Linked DNA regions of Homo sapiens: regions 2, 3, 4, 5, 6 and 7 are each linked to region 1. The links come from fine-mapping of genetic effects on plasma protein levels. Region 1 holds a variant in brackets. A gene starts in each other region. All regions are shown on their reverse strands.

What was found. A credible set is the group of variants that fine-mapping cannot tell apart. PIP is the chance, under the fine-mapping model, that this variant and not a neighbour inherited with it causes the effect. Protein levels are from antibody-based Olink assays in UK Biobank. Linkage for the fine-mapping came from a reference panel and not from the study's own genotypes, which makes the PIPs less certain.
Region 2: it holds the start of CD6, and the variant in region 1 is the best candidate, but not a certain one, in a credible set for the plasma level of the CD6 protein (UK Biobank, PIP 0.87).
Region 3: it holds the start of CXCL11, and the variant in region 1 is the best candidate, but not a certain one, in a credible set for the plasma level of the CXCL11 protein (UK Biobank, PIP 0.85).
Region 4: CXCL10 starts here. The variant in region 1 is the best candidate, but not a certain one, in a credible set for the plasma level of the CXCL10 protein (UK Biobank, PIP 0.61).
Region 5: it holds the start of ICAM2, and the variant in region 1 is the best candidate, but not a certain one, in a credible set for the plasma level of the ICAM2 protein (UK Biobank, PIP 0.52).
Region 6: it holds the start of IL12B, and the variant in region 1 is the best candidate, but not a certain one, in a credible set for the plasma level of the IL12B protein (UK Biobank, PIP 0.73).
Region 7: CD7 starts here. The variant in region 1 is the best candidate, but not a certain one, in a credible set for the plasma level of the CD7 protein (UK Biobank, PIP 0.77).

What each region holds. Positions count from the first base shown.
Region 1 is chr12:111,443,538-111,447,617 of GRCh38, reverse strand. SH2B3 (SH2B adaptor protein 3) reads right to left here. Exons shown (of 8, transcript NM_005475.3): 3 at 764-865; 4 at 585-676; 5 at 399-493; 6 at 74-288. It overlaps LOC124903019 (a long non-coding RNA gene), which reads left to right and starts at 2,873. Exons shown (of 2, transcript XR_007063462.1): 1 at 2,873-4,080. RefSeq lists enhancers at 2,214-2,483, 3,234-3,353. The variant A/G (reference allele first, on the strand shown) is at 814.
Region 2 is chr11:60,968,858-60,972,947 of GRCh38, reverse strand. It overlaps CD6 (CD6 molecule), which reads right to left and starts at 1,268. Exons shown (of 13, transcript NM_006725.5): 1 at 1,034-1,268. The coding sequence starts at 1,082.
Region 3 is chr4:76,033,985-76,037,984 of GRCh38, reverse strand. CXCL11 (C-X-C motif chemokine ligand 11) reads left to right here and starts at 1,915. Exons shown (of 4, transcript NM_005409.5): 1 at 1,915-2,058; 2 at 2,643-2,769; 3 at 2,866-2,938; 4 at 3,169-4,000. The coding sequence starts at 1,998. The coding sequence ends at 3,192. It also overlaps a transcript of ART3 not described here and the pseudogene RPL36P8.
Region 4 is chr4:76,021,254-76,025,345 of GRCh38, reverse strand. CXCL10 (C-X-C motif chemokine ligand 10) reads left to right here and starts at 1,849. Exons shown (of 4, transcript NM_001565.4): 1 at 1,849-1,975; 2 at 2,529-2,655; 3 at 2,891-2,980; 4 at 3,398-4,092. The coding sequence starts at 1,915. The coding sequence ends at 3,416. It also overlaps a transcript of ART3 not described here.
Region 5 is chr17:64,018,597-64,022,596 of GRCh38, reverse strand. ICAM2 (intercellular adhesion molecule 2) reads left to right here and starts at 1,964. Exons shown (of 5, transcript NM_001099789.2): 1 at 1,964-2,074. RefSeq lists enhancers at 1,525-1,574, 1,795-1,884, 1,630-2,130, 2,225-2,344.
Region 6 is chr5:159,328,231-159,332,322 of GRCh38, reverse strand. It overlaps IL12B (interleukin 12B), which reads left to right and starts at 1,836. Exons shown (of 8, transcript NM_002187.3): 1 at 1,836-1,891. IL12B-AS1 (IL12B antisense RNA 1) reads right to left here and starts at 805. Exons shown (of 5, transcript NR_037889.1): 1 at 283-805.
Region 7 is chr17:82,315,291-82,319,382 of GRCh38, reverse strand. CD7 (CD7 molecule) reads left to right here and starts at 1,775. Exons shown (of 4, transcript NM_006137.7): 1 at 1,775-1,969; 2 at 2,402-2,716; 3 at 2,974-3,188; 4 at 3,952-4,092. The coding sequence starts at 1,888. The coding sequence ends at 4,062.

The sequences.
Region 1 (4,080 bases):
TAGGACCCTGAACTCCAGTGGAGAGGGGTGGCACGGTCCTGCCTGCCCCACCCCACCCCACCCCACCCCATACCTTGGCTATCCCCTGAAAGTTGAAAGTGAGCACGTATTCCCCACGCCGCGTCTCGCTCTGCCGCACCAGGAACACTCCATGAGCATCAGGGCCCTGCAGCTGAACCAGCTGAGCTGCTTTCACTCTGGAGATGGGGCCGTGGAACCAGGGGTAGCAGGACAGGAAATGGTCCGTCTTCTGGCAGGCCGGGTCCAGCAGCCCCCCAGGAGAAGCACCTGTTAGATAAGATGGGTGATGGTGGTCGCAGGGGGCTACCTTATGTCCTGGGCTGAGTCTGGGTTCCAGCGTACCCAGAAGACAATGGCCTAGCTATTGGTTTACCCACCTTGGTTAAGGGAATCTGTGCTGCCCCTTGGGGAGCTGGACGTGCTAGGCTCTAGGGCTGAGGGAATATGCATCTCTGCTTCTGTGCTCTCCAGCCTGCTGGAGAAGAGGCTGAGGTTAAGGATCTGGGCAGGTCAGGGGTGGTAGCAGCAAAGGTGGTGCCAGGGACGAGGGCCCAGGACCTCACCCTCGGCCTGTGCACTCCGAGAGCTCAGCCATCCATGAATTCAGCTGCTGCTCGTCTCCCACCTCAAAGATGATGTCTGTCCGGTCCTTCACCTGGCAGGGAGGAAGGGAACAGGGTTGGGTCTGCTGTATGTGTATGTATTTGTATTGCCCCAGGGTGTGAAAAGCCTTGTCACTCACCTTCAGCACAAAGGTGTAAAGGTTGTCAGGCATCTCAAGCCGTGTGCACC[A/G]CCGGACCTCCTGGATGCTGGAGCAAGCTGCTTGTAGCTTGGGCCTTGAACTCTACGAGACCAAGTTGGGGTACTCAAGGCTTGTTCCTGATGCTCTTTCTTCCAGCCAGGCCTGAGTTTGTCTATAGTCTCCCCAGGAGTCCCCCTTTTAGAGAGAGTATCCATGGTGTTGCTGGGCAGGCTCTGAGCCTGTAGTGAGGTCCAGGGTGCCTTCCCCTAGCCTCCTGAACACCATTCACACTGAGATCCCAAGAAGCATGTGCTGGCAGAAGGCCAGCCCTCCCAGCCCATTGGACCTGGACTTGGAGACATTCCCACTCTGCCATGTGTCTGACATCCGTTTCTCTTCCCACTGGTGAGCAAACAGCTCCCTGCCCAGCCAGGTGATAGCAGCTGCTGACGGTCTCATCACACCAAGCCCAAAGGGGCAGAGCCTAGCATGGCTAGCCTAAGTTATAGCCACTGTAAAACCACAAAATCTTGGCCCTGGACCTTCCCAGGACACCCGGCACATAGGGCTGCAGGGTGGATAGGAGTTAGCCACTGTTCCTTTGCCAGCAGGAAACCTGCTCCCAGGTCTCAACTGACCCTGCAGATGCTTCCTGTGCTGGGGCACTCTGCAGCCAAGGAGCCAGCTGCTTCCGGTTGGGAATCTGCTCAGGAGGGGGTTTGCCCCTCCCCTTCCTCTTGTGATAAGACTGAAAAGATGGCCGAAAGAAGAAAAGGGGAGAAAGAGATGAGATAAGGAATGGACAGAAGTGGCCCCACTGGGCCCCCTCCATTCAGGTGTTCCTGGAAAATACTACAACCCCTAACAAACTGGGAGCAGGGGGATGGAAAGCAGAGGCAGCCCAAAGGATGTTCTAGCAACTGTGGCTTCAGGTGATCTGACCTCCACCTCAGCCCAAAAGGGCATACCTTGGACTGGAGCTGCTAGTGCTGTTGAATTGACCCCCAAAACCAGATGCTTAACCTTGCTTTACACACAGAGCTGCCAGGTACCTCTGTCGGAAGGATCATGACCCAGTGGCCTGGCCACCTCCTTTATCCCCCTTCCCCACCTGCAGGAGAGTCAATGAACAGTGAGGTAAGAGGGCAGCCTGGCAGGAGCAGGATGGCCACCTGGGCCCTTCCAGCAGGTCTCCTGGGAGCTCCCGGGCCTGCTCTGGTTGGCGGACACAACAGGCTGGGGGAGAGTAATGACTGCAGGAATGACCAACACTGGCCACAGCTCACTGCGGCCTCTCACTAGAAAGCTGCATGACTAGAAAATTCCAGCCTGAAGTGACCAGCACCAGCCAGGGCATTTTCACCTCCTACTCCCAGAGGTCCAGCAGCCAGGATGAGGCAGGCAGAGTGAGGCCTCACATGGCATCCACACGGGCACTGGACACAGCGCAGTGTGCAGGGAGTGGGGCCTCTGCGCTCTTGCCCATTTTTACAGCCAGCCAGCCCTGCAGAGCCTTCATTTCCTGTCTGCAAGATGGGTAAGGTGCGAGTGGCCACTTCCTTCTGCTACTTTTCCAGTTGGCCCTGCCTGGCCCCCACCCTTCCCCCTAGCTGCAGGCCTTAAGGATCACTGGGAGGATATAGGCCAGGCCTGGAGGGGAACGGGCCTAGTCTCCCTTTCAGTTCCGCTCCAGGCCTAGTCCCCAGTGTCAGTGCTGAGATTAACCAGCAGAGCTGCCGGTTTCACTCTGACTCTGGCCCCTGCAAGCCAGCTCCACCCCCAGCAGCTGAAGAACTGCTGAGCAGGCAGGCAGTGGTGAAAAGAGGATTCCCCTCCTCACCCACAGCCAGCCTGGCTGCCACCTGCCTGCTGGCTGAGCACAACCCAGGGGTTCTTCCCCAACTCCCCACAGCAGCCCTTGAGAGCCGCCCAGGCCTAGAGCCACAATCTCAACCCAAGCCTGCCAAGTATCAGAGCCGGGGTCCGCCACAGCTACCTGGTGGTATGGGTGTCCTATGCCAGAGGCTCCAGCCAGGTTGCAGCGTGTGGGCACATGGGCGCAGGACAACCCCTGCTTCAGTCGAAACCTCAGCCTGGACAGCTCAGGCTCTGGCCACTGCAGGGAAGGACCACCAGATGCCCATCAGATTAAGCTATATGGGGGGATGGGTGAGAGGGGAGACAAGCTCAAACCTGGGGGCTGTGTCAGCAGCTGTGGGGGCTTTAGGTTCCCTCCTCTCACATGCCCGCTATTCCACCTCCCTCAAAAGTCAAGCCAGGCCAGCAACAGCTGCTCCCTGGACCTGCTTAGGCTCTACTGTGGTTGGGTGATCAAAGTGGCCAGATCATTTCAGGTATTTGTGGTTTGAACAGTAGACTGTCACCCACCACATCCTGCAGCGTCTATTTCTGGGGAGCAAGTCTTCTCCATTCCCAGCATCTAAACAGATGGCTTCTGTTTGTTATGGCCACTGTGGCTCCAGTGGGAATAATCTATTTCTTTCTTTGCTCTGGCTGCTAGGAATCTCAAAGTCAAAGACGTAGGCCAGCTCTGACACTACCCCAACGGTAGGACTTGTATTTATTTCAACAGCTAACTTTATCCCAGATGTTATAGTTCTTTTATCCTCTAGGGTTTTTTGTTTTTGTTTTTGTTTTTTGAGACAGATTCTCACTCTGTTGCCCATGCTGGAGTGCAGTGGCGCAATCTCGGCTCACTGCAACCTCCACCTCCTGAGTTCAAGCGATTCTCCTGCCTCAGCTTCCGCAGTAGCTGGGATTACAGGCACCTGCCACCACACCCAGCTAATTTTTGTATTTTTAGTAGAGCTGGGGTTTCACCATGTTGGTTGGCCAGGTTGGTCTCGAACTTCTGACATCAGGTGATCCGCCTGCCTTGGCCTCCCAAAGTGCTGGGATTTTAGGCATGAGCCACCACGCCGGGCCCTACCCTCTAGGTTTTAAGATTCAGCCCTGACCCTGCCACTTCCTATACAACCCTGGACAAAGGGTTCGGCTCTCCATGCCTTAGTTGTCATCTGTAATTCAGCTCATTTTTTCACAAGGTGAGCTAACACAAGCGAAAGGCATGACTCGCACAGCTGTTAACAGGCCGGTGAGTAAAGCCTGCTTGGCTCCCACTACACTACTGACAGCATGACAGTCCCCTCTGAGTAGCCTAGCCACTGGGTACACCCCCAGCTTCTCTCAGCCTTACAGAACTATTGCCCCATTTTGTCACATGCTCCCTTACCATCCTGCAATAAATTCCACGTAATATAACCAACATACTACCCTAACTAATTACAAGACAGGGA
Region 2 (4,090 bases), not on the chromosome of region 1:
AAACTCCAGTTCCCAGAGCCGAATGGCTTTCCCTGAACCAGTATGAGGCCACAGGCTCGGAACACATGCCTGGAGATCAAGGCAGAGAGGAGAGCACTCCCTGCCCAGAGTCTCGCGACATGTACCCAGTCCTCCAAACCAGCTCGATGCCCCCTCCTGACTGGGTCTTCCTGGGTCTCCTCCATCACAAAATGAAAGCACTTGGCTCTCTGGCTGCAAGGTGGACCCAGACTCCCCTGGCCCGAATTCTGTTTCCATACCAGTCTTCCCAAATCCCAAAATGTGAGAGCTCGATGGGGTCAGGATCTCTTGCATCTCCAGGCCCCTGCCCCGCTCTGGCCAGCTTGGACCCTGCACTCAACAGGGGCCAGCAAGTATCTGGGGAGCACAGTCTAGTGCCCCAAACCTTCTGGCCATCTGATTCCCTGGCCCAGGTGGCCAGGTGCCTTGACACTTGGGGGCAGCTTGAGACGTGGGGGTGGCCTTCATGCTCGCTTATGCCCTAGACTACCCCAGCTGGTTGTGCTGAGGCCATCAGCGCCTGGTTGTCCAGAACTCTCCCTGGCTTCCCTGAGTCCTGTTTCGGGAGGTGCTCTCCTGTGATTGGCCTACGCCTGCTGGACCCCAAGCCTCAGCTTTGGCGTTGAAAGTACCACCATCAGTGGTCCTGCCTCTCTGGAAGGTGAACGGTTCCTTCTTAAGAGTTGGCAAGAAATAGGAAATGGGGGAGTTCCTGAGCTTAAGGATGGGAGAGGCACCTCCCTCCTCACACCCTAGGGACCCATTGGTAAGGCACAAAGCATGCTTCCCACATTCTGTCACTCCAGGAGGCTTCCAGGCACAGCCCCAGCCCCTCGAGGGGCTCCTGTGTCCTCTCCTAGCCCCAGATGCTGGACCTCCCTGGTACCTGAGTGTAGTCTTGGCTAAAAGATCCTAGAAAAGTGACCACAAGGAAACAACCAGAAAGGGGACTGAGAGGGCCGGACCCGGCTCCTCCAGCACCAGTGGCAGGAGATGAGGGAAGGGGGCCTACCTGAGAGGGCTGCCGTCAGCAATCCAGTGATCCCGAAGAAGAGCCACATGTCTGGAGCTGTCTCTGGCTGCTACGCGTGGCTGCCTGTGGGAAGCACCATCTTGGGGCCGGGAGGTGGACACGGCCGTTGTGCGCCCCTGGCGCAGGTCTGCTCTACCCTTTGCTGTTCTTGTTCCTGTGTCTCTCTCTGCTCTCTCCTCTCCGACACGCATGCGATCAAACCCAACCTGTGAGTGTCTCACGCCTGCTTGTTCTGCTTGTGGTTTTGGTCTGCAGGAAGCTGGGCTGCTGTTACAGGGGCTGGTGGGGAGAGCCCCAGCTGCCTGTGCTGGGAGCCCACCCATCCAGGCTGCACCCCAAGAGTCACGGAGCCAGACACACGCATGCACACGCATCCATGCAGACACACTTCCCCGAGGGTCTTCTAAGAAGAAGGGAAGTGGAAGAGCCATGCCTCATTTCTGGTGGCCCAGAAGAAAAAATTGATAATGTAGTAGCTGCTCAATCAGTACATATTGGAAGAGGGAGTGAATGACCCATTGCCTGTCCCGGTCCGTGTAATTTGGCTCTCTTGGATTAAATCCTGAGTTTTATCTTAACCTTAGGTGCAATGGTGGTTGGGAAGGAGGGTGTGGTCTTGATGCACTTTTGGAGATAAGAGCCTAAGTCTCCCCTCAGAGAAATATAAATTGGGAAGGGCCTGAGAGATGGCCATCCCACAAGTCCTTCTACAGGGAAGGGTGCCAAGGCCTTGTGGGAGCCGCCCCGTCAGATGGCACAGTGGGGCCAGCTATCCCATCTCCAGGTACCAGACTGGGCATGCCTCCGTGGGAGTCAGGCATGGGAGCTGGGTCTACAAGGCTGAGCAGGATTTTGACAAACAGCAATCATGGGAGGCCTCTGGGCCAGAAGGAATAGCAGGAGCAAAGGGCTGAAGGAAGGAAGCCCAGGGCTGCCTGAGAAACCCCGAGTTGCCCCATTGCACTGCAGCAGACTGACGCTATAGGAAGAAGGCAGGGGCCAAGCGTGTTTAATTCCCATGGTACTCCCTGTGGAGCATATGGTAGGAGGTGAATAAATGTTTATTGAATGAGAAAAGGAATAGATAATTTGGTTGTCCAAGCAGGGCCCTGGAAGTGGTCAAATCCAGAAGGGGTTTGGTTCCAAATCCTGGCCCTGCCTCAATTGGTCCCATCCCAGGTCCACCTCTCCTGGCCCTCCACTTCCTGCATCCTTGCTTGTCTTCATTTCCCCAACATGTGGAATGAGGAGCGGTCCTCCTCCATTGGGTTCGGTCCTAAATGTGGGTGTATGCATTTGATGCGGCAAGTATTAGAGCCACGGGGAACCAGGCGCCCCCAGAGTGAGACTCCTCCCAGTCCTGCCCCAGCGCCGGCACCTGCTGCCGCTGCCCTCTGGTGGAAGTCACTGGCAGCACAGGTTTGCATGGGTGCCTCGAGCTCCCAGATGCAATTCCATTCATTTACACAGTCTTGGTGTGCAGAACTCTGGACAGGACTCTGTGGAAGTGAAAGAGAGGAAACCATATTCCTGCCCTCAAGGAGGATGAAGTTCACACACACACAAGTGACCAAACCACAGGCCAAGGTAGGACACACATAATGTGAGGTCTCCTGGTCCTAAGAGGAACCCGTTTGAAATGGGCCGGGAAGGATGGCTAGACTCCATTTCTGACAATATGGTAGACAGCAGATGCTGAAGAATTCTCCTAATACAAAACACCACAAAAATATTGTAAACCATCTTTTAAAATGTGTAGCTGAGGTGGTGAGAAATGAAGAAAATCATCAGAGATCAAAAACGACAATAAGCCTGGGCAACATGGTGAAACCCTCTCTCTGCAAAAGGTGCAAAAAATTAGCCAGGTTTGGTGGCACACACCTGCGGTCTCAGCTACTCAGGAGGCTGAGGTGGGAGGATCGCTTGAGCCCAGGAGGTCAAGGCTTTAATAAGCCAAGATTGCACTGCTGTACTCCAGCCTGGGCAACAGAGTGAGACCTTGTATATGTTAATATATAAAGACAACAAAAATCCAAAGAGATCACAGCCAGCAGAGAAGTATCTGTTGATCCAGTTGACCAAGAGCTTCAGTCTTATGAACATGGACAAAAGTTAAAGCTGAGAAACAAAATCGAAGTGAAAAACAAAATCCAAAATTTCTGCCTTAAACAAAGAGCACTGAAATACAACATCCACAGTGGAGAACTCGGAGAGAAAAATTCCTTAAAGCGAGCTGACACAGAGCTTGCCCAACTCAGTATGGACTCTGAGTGGGAGAAAAATAAATGTCAACCCTGAATGCCCCTCACCACAAGTCTACCCACTAATAGGCCTGGAGGTGAAACTCATGGTGACTTTGTGGCAAAAACAACCACACAAAAAACAAACAAACAAAAAGATAAGATAAGAATTTAAAGTAAGGTAAATAATAGCTCCTTAGGCACGTGGCAGAAACAAATGATAAAAATTGTCTCTGGAGTAACTCATCCTATATTCATGACTCAAAGAAATCCCACAGAAAAACTCCCATGGAACATGAGTTCACATGTTTGTAAAACAGAAAAATCATAAAACACAGGACACAAGGTGCTTTAGGTGAGAGGAGCACCAAGCAATAAACTAAAAATGCAGACCTTCGAACACATCTCAGATGTTGGAATTGCAGTATATATAATATAAAATAAGGATGTTTCATATGCTTCAAGAATTAAAAGTTGGTAATTGAAAGTATAGATAAGGAACAAGAGACTATTTAAAGTGACCAGGAAGATTGAGGGAAAAAAAGCAAGCAGTTATGTAAAAACATAATTTTTGAAAATAGAAGCCCAGTGTACAGATTAAACAGTAGATTAAGGCTCAGCACTTTGGGAAGCTAAGGCAGTCTGATGGCTTGAGGCCAGGAGTTCAAGACTAGCCTGGCTAACACAGTGAAACCCTGTCTCTATTAAAAATACAAAAATTAGCCAGGTGAGGTGGCACATGCCTGTAGTCCCAGCTACTCAGGAGGCTGTAGCACAAGAATTGCTTGAACCCAGG
Region 3 (4,000 bases), not on the chromosome of region 1:
AAGAATTTAAATGCAGGATTATATCTAAATAAATATATAATTTCAAGATAAAATGCAAATGATAATTCTCAAAAAAAGAAGTTGAATAAGATAAAATAATAATCTAAAAGTAATAAACTGGCTATAAATTCCCCGATTATACCAACTTTTATTGGTAAAACTAGGAAATAGGAGAAAATTCTTGAAAGAAAGTTACAGTGATTTTCTCATGTTACAAAGACAGGAGCTAAAAAAATATTATTGATGGTTGATGTAAATAATTAGAAAAATTCAGGTAAAAATCTTTTTAAAGAATTTTAAGAATTAATATCAAAATGTAAAACAATGTATTCCTTTCAAATTACTTAAGGAAGGCCAAGCACCGTGGCTCATCCCAGTAATCCTAGCACTTTGGGAGACCAAGGCAGGAGGATTGCTTGAGGCCTGGAGTTCATGGCTGCAGTGAGCTATGATTGTGCCACTCGACTCCAGAATGGTGACAGAGTGAGACCCATCTCATTAAAAAAAACAAAAATGGCTTCAAAAAGTTAAATAAAATATATTTAAAGTTAGAAAGAAATCAAAGAAAACATAAAGAATCAGCAAGGAAGCATTTTAAAAATTACAGATTACCAGTTATACAGTAAATATATTTTATTAAGCTTACCCATTAGAAAGCTCCTTTGATATGATTTTCTTAAACATCTACAAGTGACACACTTAAAACAAAGATTTAGGAAGCTTAAGAGGAAAAGATAAAGACAAAAAAATAGGAATTACATCAAAGTAGAATCTCAGAGGTAAAACTATCACATGAGCAAAGAGGATCACTTTTTTTTATGATCCCTAATACAACTCATACAACTTCATGTACTAAGTAACAGTGCTAAAATATATATAAAGTAGCTTTCCACCATGGCCACCATTGGAGGGCAGCAGCCATGACACTGCACTACCCTATAGCTGTGGGCCTCAACAAGGGCCACAAGGTGACCAAGAATGTGAGCAAGCCCAGGCACAGCCACTGTGGGCGCCTGACCAAACTCACTAAATTTGTGTGGGACATGATCCCAGAGGTGTGTGGCTTCACCCCTAACGAGTGGCGTGGCATGGAGTTACTGAAGGTCTCCAAGGTCAAACAGGCCCTCAAATTCATCAAGAAAAGGGTAGGGACAAACATCTGCACCAAGAGAAGGCAGGAGGAGCTGAGCAACGTCCTGGCTGCCATGAGGAAAGCAGCTGCCAAGAAGGACTGAGCCCCCTGCCATCTGCCTATAATGAAAGCTTTGCAGAATAAAATAAATATAAAATAAAGTAATAAAATTAAATTAAATTTAAAAATAAAATAAAGCAAAACAAAATAAAATATATAAAGTAAAAATTGTTGAAAATGCAAAACAATATGGACATAAATACAGAAACACAGGGAAACTTCTTTAGGCACTCATTTACAGGTAAAAATATGAAATTGAATAAAGGTCATCTGGTGTCAAATAATATAGGCCTTATCTATTATAAGAGTTTGGACTGAAAAGCAAAAGTGAGATAATAAAAAAAAGCTTTTCAGAATATTATTTTGTATAGATATGTGAAGGATGAAGGGTGGGTGAAAGGACCAAAAACAGAAACACAGTCTTCCTGAATGAATGACAATCAGAATTCCGCTGCCCAAAGTAGTCCGACAATTAAATGGATTTCTAGGAAAAGCTACCTTAAGAAGGCTGGTTACCATCTGGGTTTTCACAGTGCTTTCACATTCTTATCACTTTCAACACTACTGCAAATAGGAAGGGACAGTAACATTTAGAAGAGAACAAAACAGAAACTCTTGGAAGCAGGAAAGGTGCATGACTCAAAGAGGGAAATTCCTGTGCCATAAAAGGATTGCTGGTGTATAAAATGCTCTATATATGCCAATTATCAATTTCCTTTCATGTTCAGCATTTCTACTCCTTCCAAGAAGAGCAGCAAAGCTGAAGTAGCAGCAGCAGCACCAGCAGCAACAGCAAAAAACAAACATGAGTGTGAAGGGCATGGCTATAGCCTTGGCTGTGATATTGTGTGCTACAGTTGTTCAAGGTATGCAGTAATTTTTATTTCTCAACCTATAAGTTCCTTTTCTAATGTTTCAAATGTCTTTTCTTCCACTTTTATCCTAAAAGACATGATAAAGTTTTATTTAATCTCACAGATTAGAAGTTACTACAGCTTTAGCACAGAAATGGTGGACATGTTTAAGATACTAGAGATGATTATTGAAACTAGAAATTATGAACTTCATGGAATTTTTGATTTGGCTAGAATATCTGGCAAAAGCCTTTAGCAACAGTTTTAAATGTCTGTTAAGAAGATTTTATATAGCGATCATGTTAACAAGCTTCCTGGGAAAATATTTGAGGATAAAATCAAGGGGGCAAAACAAGCTTCACCTCCAATAAACTTCCTTCATGCTTCCCATTTGTTAGCGATTTGCTTACTAATTTAATGAGAAAATAATCAACATCTTACTTAACTTTTCCCAGTAACAGTTGTGTTAAGTGCTATTTGACAAATTACTATCTTTACCCTTAATGAAAATTCTGCTCACGTTCACCACCAGCTATAAACCACAGCCATCTGTTGCAATCAGATGCATTACTAACTAATGCTATGATCTATTCTAGGCTTCCCCATGTTCAAAAGAGGACGCTGTCTTTGCATAGGCCCTGGGGTAAAAGCAGTGAAAGTGGCAGATATTGAGAAAGCCTCCATAATGTACCCAAGTAACAACTGTGACAAAATAGAAGTGATGTAAGTAATGAACTTGCTGAAGATGACAATGGTGCAGGCTTTTTTGTTTATGTATTTGCATCTAAACTTTAAGACTCTTGTATGTTCTTTTAACAGTATTACCCTGAAAGAAAATAAAGGACAACGATGCCTAAATCCCAAATCGAAGCAAGCAAGGCTTATAATCAAAGTAAGTTACCAAATTACTCCCATGTTATAATCTGTTTTATCCAAGACAGATCTTTTGAAAAAGAAAATAATGTGGACAACTACAGAAAGATTCTGCTATGATCCTGTGTGAAATATTCTGTTAAGGGGTCCTTGGTTGTAACAGCTTCCCCTTCTTACTACATGTTTTTAGATGTCCTGGGGGAAACAAGAACAGCCCAAGTAAATAAAACTCTTGTTTTCTTATTCCAGAAAGTTGAAAGAAAGAATTTTTAAAAATATCAAAACATATGAAGTCCTGGAAAAGAGCATCTGAAAAACCTAGAACAAGTTTAACTGTGACTACTGAAATGACAAGAATTCTACAGTAGGAAACTGAGACTTTTCTATGGTTTTGTGACTTTCAACTTTTGTACAGTTATGTGAAGGATGAAAGGTGGGTGAAAGGACCAAAAACAGAAATACAGTCTTCCTGAATGAATGACAATCAGAATTCCACTGCCCAAAGGAGTCCAACAATTAAATGGATTTCTAGGAAAAGCTACCTTAAGAAAGGCTGGTTACCATCGGAGTTTACAAAGTGCTTTCACGTTCTTACTTGTTGCATTATACATTCATGCATTTCTAGGCTAGAGAACCTTCTAGATTTGATGCTTACAACTATTCTGTTGTGACTATGAGAACATTTCTGTCTCTAGAAGTCATCTGTCTGTATTGATCTTTATGCTATATTACTATCTGTGGTTACGGTGGAGACATTGACATTATTACTGGAGTCAAGCCCTTATAAGTCAAAAGCATCTATGTGTCGTAAAACATTCCTCAAACATTTTTTCATGCAAATACACACTTCTTTCCCCAAACATCATGTAGCACATCAATATGTAGGGAGACATTCTTATGCATCATTTGGTTTGTTTTATAACCAATTCATTAAATGTAATTCATAAAATGTACTATGAAAAAAATTATACGCTATGGGATACTGGCAAAAGTGCACATATTTCATAACCAAATTAGTAGCACCAGTCTTAATTTGATGTTTTTCAACTTTTATTCATTGAGATGTTTTGAAGCAATTAGG
Region 4 (4,092 bases), not on the chromosome of region 1:
TCACCATCTCTCATTTTGATTGTTTAATGTTGAACTTTTCTAGGCCTCTTCCATTCATGATGTCAGACATTTCTCTGAAATTTGTTGGCATTCTATTCACAGTAAAATGTTTGTTCTGCACAAATAGGTATGGAAGGATCCCTCCATTGTCACTATTTCTCATAAGACTTTCCCTCATCAGAACGAACGCCTCTTTGCTAGGTGAAAGTCTTTTGGGTTCTGTCAGTCTCTACCTCACCTCCCTCTCTTTTGCCTTTCCGGTTTCCCACAGCTAATTCCACTGACTTATTCACTTGAAAGCTTAGCTCTATTCCAGTTCCTAGAACAGATTAACATGGGATTCAGCTCTCTAGCAAATTCCATTTACCCCAAGCAACTCACTCTCTGCTTTAATGATGGAGTTCCTACATTTGAGGATCCAAGTTTTATGTGCACCCAGTTTGCAGATACAGGCTTTATTCTTGGCCCCTGATACCAGGTTCTGAGACAGTATCTGCCTAGTACAGTAGCCTGATCCTAGGATGGAAGCTTTTCCATTCCCTGACCAATCCCTGCATTGTTGCAGCCCAGCTGACTATGAAAAGAACTCCCATATATTTTCCTAGGTTCTAAATATCACTTGCCTCAGATCTCTCATTGCAGGGTGGTGCCTGCCTTTGAAACAGTATTTCATCTTGGATTCCCTGTTACTAATCATTTGCAAAGAACACAACCAAGGACCACTATATCCATGGATACTGCTAAATTTCCACTCTCAGGTTCAACATGTGTTCCATTATATGAGTATCATGTGCTTTCTACTGCTAGCTACTATGAATAATCAGTCAAGTACTATTGAATGCTGTGAAATTAAGTTTTGCCACGATTCATCATCCAGTTAAAATTGTGCCAATTTCAGTTATCACTGTTACTAGCTCAATGGCCAACACTTTTTTTTTCTTTTTCTTTGCATTTAACAGTGTCTTGGAGCTGAACCCCATCGTAAATCAACCTGTTTCCCTTCTGTCTCAAGCTACTTTCCCAAGGTCTGTCTCTATGCGTGCCCCCCCGCTTTTAAATTCATTTCCTCAAAAAGCACCCTTTGTTTTTTACAATAACCCTAGGATAGCTATGAATCCTTTTCTCACACCATTCTAGATACCATCTTATGATGTTTTCATTCAGGGACTGCTATAAGACGTGAAACTTGTTTTAACACACCACAAATCAGATACCCAAATGAGCAATGTTTTCCCTCAAAATAGTTATGTTGGAGGCTATTTACTTAATCTAATGGTGTTATGAATGATCAAAGCATTTATTGAATTATTTAAAACTTGCCAGTTCCAGATCTTTGACCCTGTCAAAGCAGGCCAGTCCTATTACTTTATAGTATTTGATCAAGGAGGACTGTCCAGGTAAATCACTGTTCTAATAATCAGGCACAACTTGCTGTTACCAAAAAATTAGGTTTACCTATAAAGGATGAAAAATTTCTATTACTGGGGATATTTTGAAAAATAACCTCTGAAAGTAACTGTAAAAGTTTAAGTGTTGAGAAAAAGCATTATAGTTAGAATGGATTGCAACCTTTGTTTTTTTCTATATGCAATGAAGTTCTTTTTTTCAAGAAACAGTTCATGTTTTGGAAAGTGAAACCTAATTCACTATTACCAAAAAAAGAGGAGCAGAGGGAAATTCCGTAACTTGGAGGCTACAATAAATAATACCTTCGAGTCTGCAACATGGGACTTCCCCAGGAACAGCCAGCAGGTTTTGCTAAGTCAACTGTAATGCCCTTATCCAATCAGAATTAGGGAGGGAAAATGGCTTTGCAGATAAATATGGCACACTAGCCCCACGTTTTCTGAGACATTCCTCAATTGCTTAGACATATTCTGAGCCTACAGCAGAGGAACCTCCAGTCTCAGCACCATGAATCAAACTGCCATTCTGATTTGCTGCCTTATCTTTCTGACTCTAAGTGGCATTCAAGGTAAGGAACATCAAAGGATACTTAATTTGTAAAATGAGAAATAGGAATAGGTATAAATTCTAAAAATACAGAAATAATGTATTTGTAAAAGTTTCACTGCATGCTTATAAATAAGAGGGAAATAAATAGAGATTCCCTCAGATCATAAAACTTATATGAATTGAAGTGAGAGAAACAAATAGAATAAGAGAAAGAGAAGGAAAAAGGGAAGGAGGACAGAAGAGATGGGGAAGAGGGAGGATAGAGAGAGAAAATGTGAGGGAATGCGGACAGAGATGAGATACAGATACTTCCTTACCTAACTAAGCTCAATGAACCACATGAACTGTGCTTAAGGGTTTGACTTTATAATCAACAAGCTGCAATTCTTTTCTTCCAGATAATCAACTCTTTAATCATTTACAGTTGTGTTATGATGTGATCCATTCCTCCTCAGATTAAGTGACTATTTGCTGATATGGGGATATAGGTTCTGCTAAATACCACCAGTCTACATTAAATGCCTAAAATGAACACTGTGCTAACCTTCTCTGCTGTTCCTCTTTTCCTACAGGAGTACCTCTCTCTAGAACTGTACGCTGTACCTGCATCAGCATTAGTAATCAACCTGTTAATCCAAGGTCTTTAGAAAAACTTGAAATTATTCCTGCAAGCCAATTTTGTCCACGTGTTGAGATCATGTGAGTGAAATCCCATCTGATTATCACTTCCCTGGTTGTAATTATATACTGTATTAAATATGTAATGATAATAAAAAAAGATCAGTAAAGGGTTTGTGATGATTCTAAAACTAATGTACAGCAAACAAAAACATGCAGAGTGAAACTTAAATGTCTGACTTCAGAACTGCGTATGCCATCTGTTTTATTGACCCAACACAGTTTTAAATATTTTCATCCCTATTTATTTCTACAGTGCTACAATGAAAAAGAAGGGTGAGAAGAGATGTCTGAATCCAGAATCGAAGGCCATCAAGAATTTACTGAAAGCAGTTAGCAAGGAAAGGTAGGTTTGCTGTTGCCTGCAGAAGAATTGCTCTTTAGGAAACGGCAATCTTGGGAGTCAGAAATACTTGCATTGTGGTTTGCTGTGCAATCGCTGGTTTAAAAGTATGTTACCACCACGCCCTCCCCTACCTCCATTTATTTAAATGCTGAGGCACCATCTTGTGTGATAAGTATCAGAAGTTACCCTGATTACCAGTCAACCTTGAAGTACAGCTATAACTATCTAAGCAAAACTGACAACATTTTCCCCAAGTCTTTCATGGTTGAAAAAAGCAACCCCTATAATCCATAATGAATGCATAGCAGCAGGAAAGCTCAGTTATCTATTCTATGAACTCGGTACTTTCCAAACACAACCCAATCTGAAGCCAGAGTCAGACTATCACACTTTTATATCCCCTTTCTCTTCTTACAGGTCTAAAAGATCTCCTTAAAACCAGAGGGGAGCAAAATCGATGCAGTGCTTCCAAGGATGGACCACACAGAGGCTGCCTCTCCCATCACTTCCCTACATGGAGTATATGTCAAGCCATAATTGTTCTTAGTTTGCAGTTACACTAAAAGGTGACCAATGATGGTCACCAAATCAGCTGCTACTACTCCTGTAGGAAGGTTAATGTTCATCATCCTAAGCTATTCAGTAATAACTCTACCCTGGCACTATAATGTAAGCTCTACTGAGGTGCTATGTTCTTAGTGGATGTTCTGACCCTGCTTCAAATATTTCCCTCACCTTTCCCATCTTCCAAGGGTACTAAGGAATCTTTCTGCTTTGGGGTTTATCAGAATTCTCAGAATCTCAAATAACTAAAAGGTATGCAATCAAATCTGCTTTTTAAAGAATGCTCTTTACTTCATGGACTTCCACTGCCATCCTCCCAAGGGGCCCAAATTCTTTCAGTGGCTACCTACATACAATTCCAAACACATACAGGAAGGTAGAAATATCTGAAAATGTATGTGTAAGTATTCTTATTTAATGAAAGACTGTACAAAGTAGAAGTCTTAGATGTATATATTTCCTATATTGTTTTCAGTGTACATGGAATAACATGTAATTAAGTACTATGTATCAATGAGTAACAGGAAAATTTTAAAAATACAGATAGA
Region 5 (4,000 bases), not on the chromosome of region 1:
AAACTGCACATCAAAGGGAGGAGTAAGGAAAACAGGATGGCAAATCTTCAAAAATTAAACAAAATTACTTTTTTTTTTTTTTGTAGCGATGGGGTCTCACTTTGTCACCCAGGCTGGTCTTGAAGTCCTAGACTCAAGCAATCCTCCCACCTCAGCCTCCCAAAGTGCCGGATTTACAAGTGTGAGCCACCAAGCCCAGTCAGAATTACCACTAAAAAAAAAAAAGAAAAAAGGTTAAGATGGTAGATTTTGTTGTGTATATTTTACCATTATGATCCAGCATTTCCACTTCTGGGTACATACCCCAGAGAACTGAAAGCAGAGTCTTGAGCAGGTATTTGTACAACCCTGTTTGTAGCAGCACTATTCACAATAGCCAAAGGTGGAAGCAACACAGGTGTCCATCAGTATATGAATGCATGAACAGAATGCGGCACACACGCACAATAGGATATTGCTCAGCCTTCAAAAGGAAGGCAGTTCTGGCCAAGCGTGGTGGTTCATGCCTGTAATACCAGCACTTTGGGAGGCTGAGGTGGGCGGATCATTTGAGGTCAGGAGTTCGAGACCAGCCTGGCCGACATGATGAAACCCCATCTCTACTAAAAATACAAAAATTAGCCAGTCGGCACGTGCCTGTAATCCCAGCTACTCAAGAGGCTGAGGCAAGGCCAGGCACGGTGGCTCATGCCTGTAATCCCAACACTTTGGGAGGCCAAGGCGGGCGGATTGCCTGAGCTCAAGAGTTTGAGACCAGCCTAGGCAACATGGTGAAACCCCATCTCTGCTAAAATACAAAAGAAATTAACCAGGCGTGGTGGCGTGCACCTGTAGTCCCAGCTACTCAGGAGGCTGAGGCAGGAGAATTGCTTGAACTCGGGAGGCGGAGGTTGCAGTGAGCCGAGATCACACCACTGCACTCCAGCACTCCAGCCTGGGCGACAGAGTGAGGCTCCATCTCTACAAAACAAACAAACAAACAAACAACAACAACAACAACAAAAACACTGAGGCAAGAGAATCGTTTGAACCTGGGAGGCAGAGGTTACAGTGAGCCAAGATCACACCACTGCACTCCAGCCTGGGCAACAGAGCGAAACTCCATCTCAAAAAAAAAAAAAGAAAGAAAAGAGAAAGAGAGAGCTCCAGAGATGGATGGTGGTGATGGTTGCAGAACAATGTGAATGTACTTAGTGCCCCAAACTGTACACTTAAACATAATTAAAATGGGCCTAGCACGGTGGCTCATTCCCAGCATTTGGGAGGCTGAGGTGGGAGGATTGCTTGAGCTCAAGAGTTTGAGACCAGGCTGGGCAACATAAGCAACACTCTGTCTCTACAAAAACTACAGAAATTAGCCAAGCCTGGTGGCTGCACACTTGTAGTCCCAGTCACTTGGGAAGTTGAGGAGGGAGGGTCACTTGAGCTCAGGGGTCAGAGGTTGCCACGAACTGTGATTGTGCCACTGCACTCCAGCCTAGGTGACAAAAGCAAGACTCTGTCTTAAAAACAACACAACAAAAAATTGGCTGGACGCAGTGGCTCTTGCCTGTAATCCTAGCACTTTAGGAGGCCGAGGAAGGCAGTTCACTTGAGGTCAGGAGTTCGAGACCAGCCTGGCCAACATGGTGAAACCCTGTCTCTACTAAAAATACAAAAATTAGCCAGGCGTGGTGGCAGGTGCCTGTGGTCCCGGTTACTCTGCGGGCTGAGGCACAAGAATCACGTGAACTCGGGAGGCAGAGGTTGCAGTGAGCCGAGATCACACCACTGCACTCCAGCCTGGGTGACTGAGACTCAGTCTAAAAAAAAAAAAAAAATTGAAATGGTAAATTCTGTTGTGTACGTTTTACCACAATTAAAAAAAAAAAAAGCGGAATGGGAGTGGAGCTAAATGAGGCTAGTTTAGGGTGGGAACCGGGGCACAGGAAGCACGTCACTTCTGGTGGGGAGTGGGGGGAGGGAGAAGACTGAATAAGCCGTGAACTGGGCAGCTGTGACACGCGCACCTTGTCACCTTGTCACCAATTTCCTGCCCGGGATCCCAGAGCTACCCTTCTTGGAGCCCACAGGGGTAAGGTTGAGCTTCTCACTTTCCCTCCAATGAAGCGTGGCAGCATGGGAAGGATTTTGGCAGTGTCGAGGTCTGAGTTTTAGTCCGTTCCCCTCTCTGGGTCTCAGTTTCTCGCTGGTAAGTGCAGGGGTTGGGGAATCCCCAGCGCTCCTGTGGCTCGACATTCTGCACTCTGTGAAGCTCCTGCCCTGCCCTGCTGGGTCTCTGAGCTCACGCACTTGCCCTGGCGCTCCTTTCCTGATTTGTCTCCCCTCTCTCCTTCCTCTGCTCTGCCATCTCGGTGGCCGATGTAGAAATGTGGGGCTGCCTCCTTATTTAGGGGCCCACGTGGGCTGTGATCTGGACCATCTGAGCTGATGCAGAGGGGAAGGGACAGTCCCTGTTCTCCCCGGCAGGCGTGGTGGGTTCATAATGAATCTCAGTCACTCACTTCCTACCTGCCTCGGTTCGAGGGGGTCTTTCCTAACCCATGGCTCACATTCCCATGAAGCCTCTTCTTTCTAGGCACGTAGAAAGGCCCTTTTTCCCTTTTATTATTTTTGTAAAATTTACTAGGTAACGCATAAAAAGCTTATGTAACATACATATACATCATACTGCACAGTAATATACCAAACACACCTGAAGCTGCCACTCAGCACAAGGATGGAGTATCACCAAACTGCAAACACCACTTATCTGCTTTTTTTTTTTTTTTTTTTTTTTGAGACAGAGTTTTCATTCTTGTCGCCCAGGCTGGAGTGCAGTGGCACAATCTTGGCTCACCACAACCTTCGCCTGCTGGGTTCAAGCGATTCTCTTGTCTCAGCCTCCCAAGTAGCTGGGACTACAGGTGCGCATGCCACCATGCCCAGCTAATTTTTGTGTTTTTGGTAGCGACAGGGTTTCACTATGTTGGCCAGGAGAGTCTCGATCTCTTGACCTCATGATCCGCCCACCTCGGCCTCCCAAAATGCTGGGATTACAGGCGTGAGCCACCACACCTGGCCACCACTTGTCCACTTTTATGCTACTTGCCTCCCACCCACAGGTAGCCACCCTCTGGAATTTTGTGTTTATTGTTCTCTTATTTTTAAGTGCTTTATTACATATGCATCTCTATTTATTTATTTATTTATTTATTTACTGAGATGGGGTCACACTATATTTCCCAGGCTGGAGTGCAGTGGCTATTCACAGGCATGATCATAGCACACTACAACCTCGAACTCCTGGGATCCAGTGATCTTCCCACCTCAGCCTCCTGATTAGTTGGGACTACAGTCTTGAACTGCTGCACCTGGCTATGCCTATTTATTTTTATTTTATGAAACAGTTATATAGCGTTACTGTGTGCTAGGCACTGTTCTAAATGCTTTAAAATATTTACTTATTTTATTTGTTTAATCTGCACAAAAACCCTATGAGGAAGATACTATTATTGATTCCTTTTTGCAGATGAGGAAATTGAGGCACAGAAAGATTAAGTGATTTGCTCAAGGTCACACAGATAGTGAGAAGTAAGGCCGGGAGCAGTGGCTCATGCCTGTAATCCCAGCACTTTGGGAGGCCAAGGCAGGAGGATCATGAGGTCAAGAGATAGAGACGGTCCTGGCCAACAAGATGAAACCCCATCTCTACTAAAAATACAAAAATTAGCTGGGTGTGGTGGCGTACGCCTGTAGTTTCAGCTATTCGGGAGACTGAGGCAGGAGAATAGCTCGAACCCGGGAGGTGGAGGTTGCAGTAAGCCAAGATCGCGCCACTGCACTCCAGCCTGGGCGACACAACGAGACCCCGTCTCAAAAAAAAAAAAAAAAAAAAAAAAAAGAGAAGTAAACACAAAGACATGTCTGGTTCTTAGTGTGACAGCGTTTCTAGGGCATACATCTAAGAATGGAACTGTGAGTTACAGGGTATAAGAATATTCCGTTTACAAGATAATGC
Region 6 (4,092 bases), not on the chromosome of region 1:
GAACCTTACTTGTCTTATTTTATGCATGTATTTATTTATGGGGGGGCACAAGGACTCATCTGTGGTGGTGCAGCCACTGTAAATAAATTAGTGAAACTACTTCACGTCAATTTCTGTTCAGTACACTTTAGTGATGGATCGGAGGAAATTAATACATGTTTACAAAAAGCCCCTCCCCCAGTTGTTACATATGCCTCAGAGATACCAGTTGTGAAAAGTGCAGGTGCACTTACACACATACGCACACACACCCCACAAATGGTATCATACGAAAAAACATACCTGCAATCTGCTTTGTCCACTTAATTGTATATCTTGGATACAGAACTTGTTTCACTGGAAGGCTAAAAGGCAAAGTCTGGGGAGGCCTAGAGGACACAGGGGATGGGAGGAGGCGCTCTGAGCTGGATGTAAGGTCTCCACCCACGGCCAGAGCACAAGGTCGGATAACCAGTGGGCCTGCCGGCTTGGCTGCCTGGGCCCTCCCCTGCCGAGACAAACGGCTGGAGGGAGGAAGTGTGCGGCTGGGAAGCTCCGCTGCTCTGGCCCGGGTTTCCCATTTCCCCCTTCCCGCGCTGAGACGGCGAGGAAAGTTAGCCCGGAAATCTGCGCCCGCCTAAAACCCGGCCTGGTCCCAGCCACCGCCCCAGGAACTTCCCCCACCGCAGGGGCGGAGGTCGAGAGCAGGGATGGAGAAGTGGACCTGCGCGGGTGGACTCCGGGGCGCGGGTGGACTCCGGGGCGCGGGGGGACTCCGAGGAGCGGGTGGACTGTGGGGCGCGGGTACCGTCTCGCAGCGACCTCTGTCGGCGGCTCTGGGGATGGCCCGCATCTGTCTGCGTGTACCTGGTATACGTGCAGGTACATGTTCCTGTTCACGTGCAGACTGGGCGGGGGATGGGGGGGTCCACACCGGTGTACACCTTTGCATACCTCTTAGCAACTTGAAATTCCACCACGAGAGATATCTTTATTCCGCTATTCCTGTGCATCTGCACGGAGCCCCTAGGGCCATAGATTTGTGTGCAAATGAAATGAGGATGTAGTCTGGGTGCCCAAGGGGGGGTGCCTTGAGTGTGGTTGTCTGTATGCCTCCCTGAGGGTATTTCACTTTCTGCTCCCATCCGCCCCTATGAGCGAGTACCTATGAGCACAGGATGTGCACATATTTGAGTCTTATTAGTGGTACACGCAGTTTTATCATCTCCCCAGGTCTGTGTCTGTATGAAATGTGCATGGGTGTGTGTGTGCACGCGTGTGTTCCCACTCGGGGAATGTGGGGAGAGGTGCATGGAGCCAAGATGGGTGGTAAATAGTATGTTTCTGAAATTAAAGGACTAATGTGGAGGAAGGCGCCCCAGATGTACTAAACCCTTTGCCCTTCATCTCATCCTCTCTGACTTGGGAAGAACCAGGATTTTGTTTTTAAGCCCTTGGGCATACAGTTGTTCCATCCCGACATGAACTCAGCCTCCCGTCTGACCGCCCCTTGGCCTTCCTTCTTCCTCGATCTGTGGAACCCAGGGAATCTGCCTAGTGCTGTCTCCAAGCACCTTGGCCATGATGTAAACCCAGAGAAATTAGCATCTCCATCTCCTTCCTTATTCCCCACCCAAAAGTCATTTCCTCTTAGTTCATTACCTGGGATTTTGATGTCTATGTTCCCTCCTCGTTATTGATACACACACAGAGAGAGACAAACAAAAAAGGAACTTCTTGAAATTCCCCCAGAAGGTTTTGAGAGTTGTTTTCAATGTTGCAACAAGTCAGTTTCTAGTTTAAGTTTCCATCAGAAAGGAGTAGAGTATATAAGTTCCAGTACCAGCAACAGCAGCAGAAGAAACAACATCTGTTTCAGGGCCATTGGACTCTCCGTCCTGCCCAGAGCAAGGTAAGCACTTCCCAAGCCCCTACCTCCCTCCCCTCCCTGTGGGCCTGCAGCTGTCCAGGTGTAGAAACCGTTAGTGTGCTACCCCAGCAGCTGGCAGGAGGGAGTTGGTGGATTCCTGGAAGCATCCCTGGTGAGTCATCTGCTGGAACATTAGTGAAAACTTAGTACTCTAGGGACCGATGTACAGTGTCCATTTTAAAAGCCACCTAATAATAACTGTATAGCAAGATCTGTGTGTATGCATAGTTTGTGGAAATGTTTGTTTTATCTTATTTTGAAGTGGTGTGTATTGATGTATAAAAGTATATTCCTAAATGTTAATGCCCATCAGTTAAAGGATTGTATAGAGCTAAAGTGAGTGGTGCCTGCCTTACTATTGAAATTTTTAAAAAGCCTTTCGTGCATTCCTTAAAGTAATTGGATTCATAATTATAATAATGTTACAAATCAGACTTGCTCCCATATTTGTGATGGTCTTGGTCGTCAGTTGTGATATCAACCAAAATGACAGCTGGGATCCCCATTCTTGTGGATTAACTAACTTTGGCCCCAGTTAAAAAATGAAAAGCTATTATTGCTTCCTAAAGAGTTTTTAAATCTGTGAGAAGGGGGAAAAAAAGGTTTTTTTACTTGCCCAGGTAAAATTGTGTGCAACAACAATGTCATTTTAACAAAGGGATTACTAAACCCCAGGTGATGACCCACTTTTTCAAACAAGGAATTGCAAGATACTAGATGGAATGTGGGTAACCTCTTAGAGTTTAGTTTACTGGAATCTGAAATTGTATGATTTCCGTACATTCCTTCATGCTACTAATAAGTCATGGAATCCCTCTGTGCTGGACTCTGGGGGTAAAGTGCAAAACAAGATAGACATGATCCATGGCATAAGAGAGTTCACTCAGTGTGGCAGAGAAGACAAACAGTAAAGAAGAGACTGTATTGTTGCCATTGTAGTAAATGCTGTGGAAGGAGGGGAGCAAATAGTGGGTCCTGACTTCATCTAGGCACCATGACACTTCACGTGAATTATGTCACTAACTCCTTACCACAGTAGCATGCCCATTTTATAGATCAGGAGTGTGGGGCTTAAAGGGGCCAAGTGACTCACCCAGAGTCACACAGTTCTAGAAGTCTGCCTGGCCCTCAAACTAGGGATCTTTGCATGTGCCACCCATGCCATCTGTGACTATATCTTTTTATTCTTTAATAATAACTCCCTTTTCTAATTAAAGGTAACAAACAAAACTTAAAAAAGAGATGCCCACCCAAGCGTCATTGGCATGCTGATGTTGGCACCAGTGTTGGGAAGCCCTTAGCATACTCCAGGAAGTAGGAGTGTGTAACGTGGGGTCCCTTTGTCCTTCATGCAAGGGTTTCAAGAGTTTAGAAAACCTATGAAATTGCACACACAAAAATGTGTTTTAATCATCAAGACTCTCAGACTTACCATGCTGAGAAATGTGGGCTGAGGGATAGCGCTCCCTAGTATCAGCTGATGGGCCAGAGAGCCAAAGGAGGAGACCCACCACCATCACCTCTCCTGGACAGTGCTCTGTGGTTTCAAATGTAGGTGATACTAAAATGGGAGTTGCTTCTTAGAACCATGGCCGGGGTTCCCTTGACCCTGAAGTGCAGTTCACCTGAGATTGTCAAATGCATCTGAGGCATGCAGAGGAAGTGCTGGGCACACAGCTAGTGGGAATACCTCAGCGTAAGTGGCCAGGAGATGCCAGGAATCTCCACTATTTCCCTTCCAGTGTGCCAGCCTCTGGGTTTTACAGGCGCATGTAATTGCAGTACCTCTGTGCACATTTCCCTACTGCCTAGAATGACTTTCTTGACTATCCATGATATATAAAACACAGATACCGAATTGTTCCCTTACCTCTTCCTCTAGGTTCAAGTTAATATGTTATTGGTTGCCTTCTATAATATGTTATCTCATTGCCTTTCCCAACAAGCCTTTGAGATAAGTATTAGGTCCATTTTATAGACAAAGAGACTGAGGCTCAGCGAGTAACTTGGCCAACAAGTTGCTCCCACTGCTCAACAGCAAATGAGCGGTGGGACCAAAATTCAAGCCTGTGTCTGTTTAACTTCAAGCCTGTGAATGTACTAACCGGTGCCCTGTGCCAGCTAGTACTTTGCTACAGTCATAACCTAGACTGAAGTGATAGCCATGCCCCTAAAACTCCATG
Region 7 (4,092 bases), not on the chromosome of region 1:
CACACGCGTGTCCACACGCACCCGTCTCTGCACACACATGCGTGGAATCACGCGCACCCGTCTCTGCACACACGCGTGGAGTCATGCGCACCCATCTCTGCACACACACGTGTCCACACGCACCCGTCTCTGCACATGCGTGTCCACACACATCCATCTCTGCACACACGCGTGTCCACATGCACCCGTCTCTGCACACATGCATGGAGTCACGCGCACCCGTCTCTGCACACACAAGTGTCCACACACCCGTCTCTGCACACGCACGTCCACACGCACACGTCTCTACACACGCACGTGTCCACACGCACCCGTCTCTGCACACCCGCGTGTCCACACGCACCCGTCTCTGCACACACGCATGGAGTCACGCGCACCCGTCTCTGCACAAAGTGTCCACACACACCCGTCTCTGCACATGCGTGTCCACACACACCCGTCTCTGCACACACGCGTGTCCACACACATCCGTCTCTGCACACACGCGTGGAGTCATGCGCACCCATCTGCACACACACGTGTTCACACGCACCCGTCTCTGCACATGCGTGTCCACACACACCCGTCTCTGCACACACGCGTGTCCACACGCACCCGTCTCTGCACACACGCATGGAGTCAAGTGCACCCGTCTCTGCACACACGTGTCCACACACACCCGTCTCTGCACACGCACATCCACACGCACACGTCTCTGCACACGCACGTGTCCACACGCACCCATCTCTGCACATGCGTGTCCACACACACCCGTCTCTGCACACACGTGTCCACACGCACCCGTCTCTGCACACACGCATGGAGTCACACGCACCCGTCTCTGCACACACAAGTGTCCACACACAGCCGTCTCTGTACACGCACGTCCACACGCACACGTCTCTGCACACACACGTCCACACGCACCCGCCTCTGCACACGCACGTGTCCACACGCATCCGTCTCTGCACACACACGTGTCCACACGCACCCGTCTCTGCACACACACGTGTCCACACGCACCCGTCTCTGCACACACATGTCCATACGCACCCGTCTCTGCACACACACGTGTCCACACACTCCTGCTCATGTGCTGCACCTACTGGCTTTGGGCACCAACGTCAACGCTTCGTCATTGTGGCGGGAGGCCCTCAGGACAGAGAAGTGCCCCCTCCCAGAGGACTCAGTCACCCTGGGGTCAGAGCCCAGGCACAGGTCTCCCTCAGCCCCTGAAGCTGGGCACTGCGGCCTGACGCACTCCTCCCAGGGAGGTCGGGAAACCTCAGGCCTGGACCATACCTCAGACCTCCCGCCTCCAGGACATGGAACGCAGAGCCACGGTCAGCTGGTCGGCTGCAGCGTTGGGTGCGGGTGCAGGCCCAGGCTCCTTCCCCACGGCCAAACCAGGGGGTGCCAATTCTGGCCTGCCCTGTGCTCCTCTGCACTGTGTGGGTGACTCATGGGTCATGGGTGGCTCCAGATTTCTGGGCATAAATTGGGTCCCAGCAGAAAGTACCCCAGAGGACCAGGCAGGCTGGGGGCCAGCTCTGCCGCTCACTTCCAGACCCTGCCACCCGTCCCCAGCCAGGGAGTCCCTTCTCTGTCCTCTGGTCTGCCCCGCCCCAGGCCTTGACCTCCTCCCTGTGGAGATGCAGGGGCAGTGGGGGATACAGGGACGCCCTGCTCTCAGGGCAGCTCTCAGGGAGGCAGTGCTGGGGAGGGGTAGGTGAGACCGCCCCTCCCACCGGGCCCACAGCACCACCCTGGTCTGAGGCACCGCCTCCAGGAAGCCCTCTCTGAGCTCTGAGCGCCTGCGGTCTCCTGTGTGCTGCTCTCTGTGGGGTCCTGTAGACCCAGAGAGGCTCAGCTGCACTCGCCCGGCTGGGAGAGCTGGGTGTGGGGAACATGGCCGGGCCTCCGAGGCTCCTGCTGCTGCCCCTGCTTCTGGCGCTGGCTCGCGGCCTGCCTGGGGCCCTGGCTGCCCAAGGTAAGAGCTTCCCAGGCTCTCCATGGCCACAGCTCCAGAGCTCTCCCTGCCCCATGAGCTCAGAGCCCCCAGTCTGAGCCACAGCACAGCCCCCAGGAAGCGGGTGGGGTGCTGAGCGGCCTCCAGTGTCTGAGGACTCATTTAAGAGAAGGAAAAAGGGTGGACCCCGGTGGGGAGTGGCCGGGGCTGTCCAGGCAGGGCCGCTGCTTTGGGAGGAAGAAGCCCACAGTCTCGGAACACGAGGACAGCACCTCCCCCAACACCACAGCCGGTGCCCAGATCTGCTCCATGCCCCGTAAGGCACCGTGTCTTTGGCGACATGTCAGCCCTGGGCTGTCTCAGGGCCCCACCATCCCCACCACTGTCCCCTGCAGGGAGGACATTCTCTGTCCTTCTGGCCAGACTGATGGTGACAGCCCAGGTCCTCCCCAGAGGTGCAGCAGTCTCCCCACTGCACGACTGTCCCCGTGGGAGCCTCCGTCAACATCACCTGCTCCACCAGCGGGGGCCTGCGTGGGATCTACCTGAGGCAGCTCGGGCCACAGCCCCAAGACATCATTTACTACGAGGACGGGGTGGTGCCCACTACGGACAGACGGTTCCGGGGCCGCATCGACTTCTCAGGGTCCCAGGACAACCTGACTATCACCATGCACCGCCTGCAGCTGTCGGACACTGGCACCTACACCTGCCAGGCCATCACGGAGGTCAATGTCTACGGCTCCGGCACCCTGGTCCTGGTGACAGGTAGGGAATGTGCCCATCCCAGACCCCCCTCCCAACCCCAGCTGCTGGCCAGGCTCTGCTCCCCCAGCCCTTGTCGTGGGACCCTCCCTCCTACATGTGCCTGAACTGTTCCAGCTCCCAGCCCACTGCCCCCAGCAGCCTCCTAGATAGCTGCCCCTCCTCCCCTCCACAGCCTTTCCCTGCCCCGAATCCCAAACCCCGGGGGCTCTAACAGGTTCTCCACCGGGAGAATCCCTTCCTTCTTTTTTCCTTCTCAGAGGAACAGTCCCAAGGATGGCACAGATGCTCGGACGCCCCACCAAGGGCCTCTGCCCTCCCTGCCCCACCGACAGGCTCCGCCCTCCCTGACCCGCAGACAGCCTCTGCCCTCCCTGACCCGCCAGCAGCCTCTGCCCTCCCTGCGGCCCTGGCGGTGATCTCCTTCCTCCTCGGGCTGGGCCTGGGGGTGGCGTGTGTGCTGGCGAGGACACAGGTCAGTGTGAGCCCCAGCTGCCACCTGCACCCCAAAGATTGTTCCCTCTCCTGAGAGCAGCGTGGGGGGCGCCAAAGCCCCAGAGGAAAACCCTGGTACCCGCCGCCTCCTCTGCAGGCTCTGGAACTCTCAGGGTGGAAGTGGCCTCGGCGGGGAGGGAGGGGGACCAGCACCAAAGCGACCTGAGGGGGAGGGAGCAGCCCAGGCGCTGGGCCCGCGTGTGCGCGTGTGCGCGTGTGCAGGTGTGAGTGTCTGAGGGGGGATCTCTGAGGTCTGTGCGTGCAGGTTGGAGTGTGCGGGCAGAGGAGGGAGCGCCCAGGCGCTGGGCCCGCGTGTGCACGTGTGCAGGTGTGAGCCTGTGTGTGGGGATCTCTGAGGACTGTGCGTGCATGTTGGAGTGTGCCGGCGTGCTGTGTGGCCGTGGGAAGGGGAGGGGGCCTCAGACAGACACAGAGTCTAGGCGTGGCCACTCCCCTCGGTCCCTGCTGTTTGTCTGGGGCTGGAGTGGGGGTCCCGCTTGGCTTGGGCTTGGTGGGGGGGTCCAAGCCACTTCCACTCTCCTTCTTCAGAGGCACCCCAGGGTCCGACCCAGCCCTGCCTGGGGAAGGCTCTGCTGGGAAGCCCTGGGGCTCAGGAGACCTGGGGGCCAGCCCAGAGGAGCCCCGTGGGGGTCTCGTGTTAAAATTAGAAAGCTGACCGGAGTGGGGTGGGGTCCAGGACACCACGCTGGCCACTGGTTGGAGACGGCGGTTCTGTCTTTCAGATAAAGAAACTGTGCTCGTGGCGGGATAAGAATTCGGCGGCATGTGTGGTGTACGAGGACATGTCGCACAGCCGCTGCAACACGCTGTCCTCCCCCAACCAGTACCAGTGACCCAGTGGGCCCCTGCACGTCCCGCCTGTG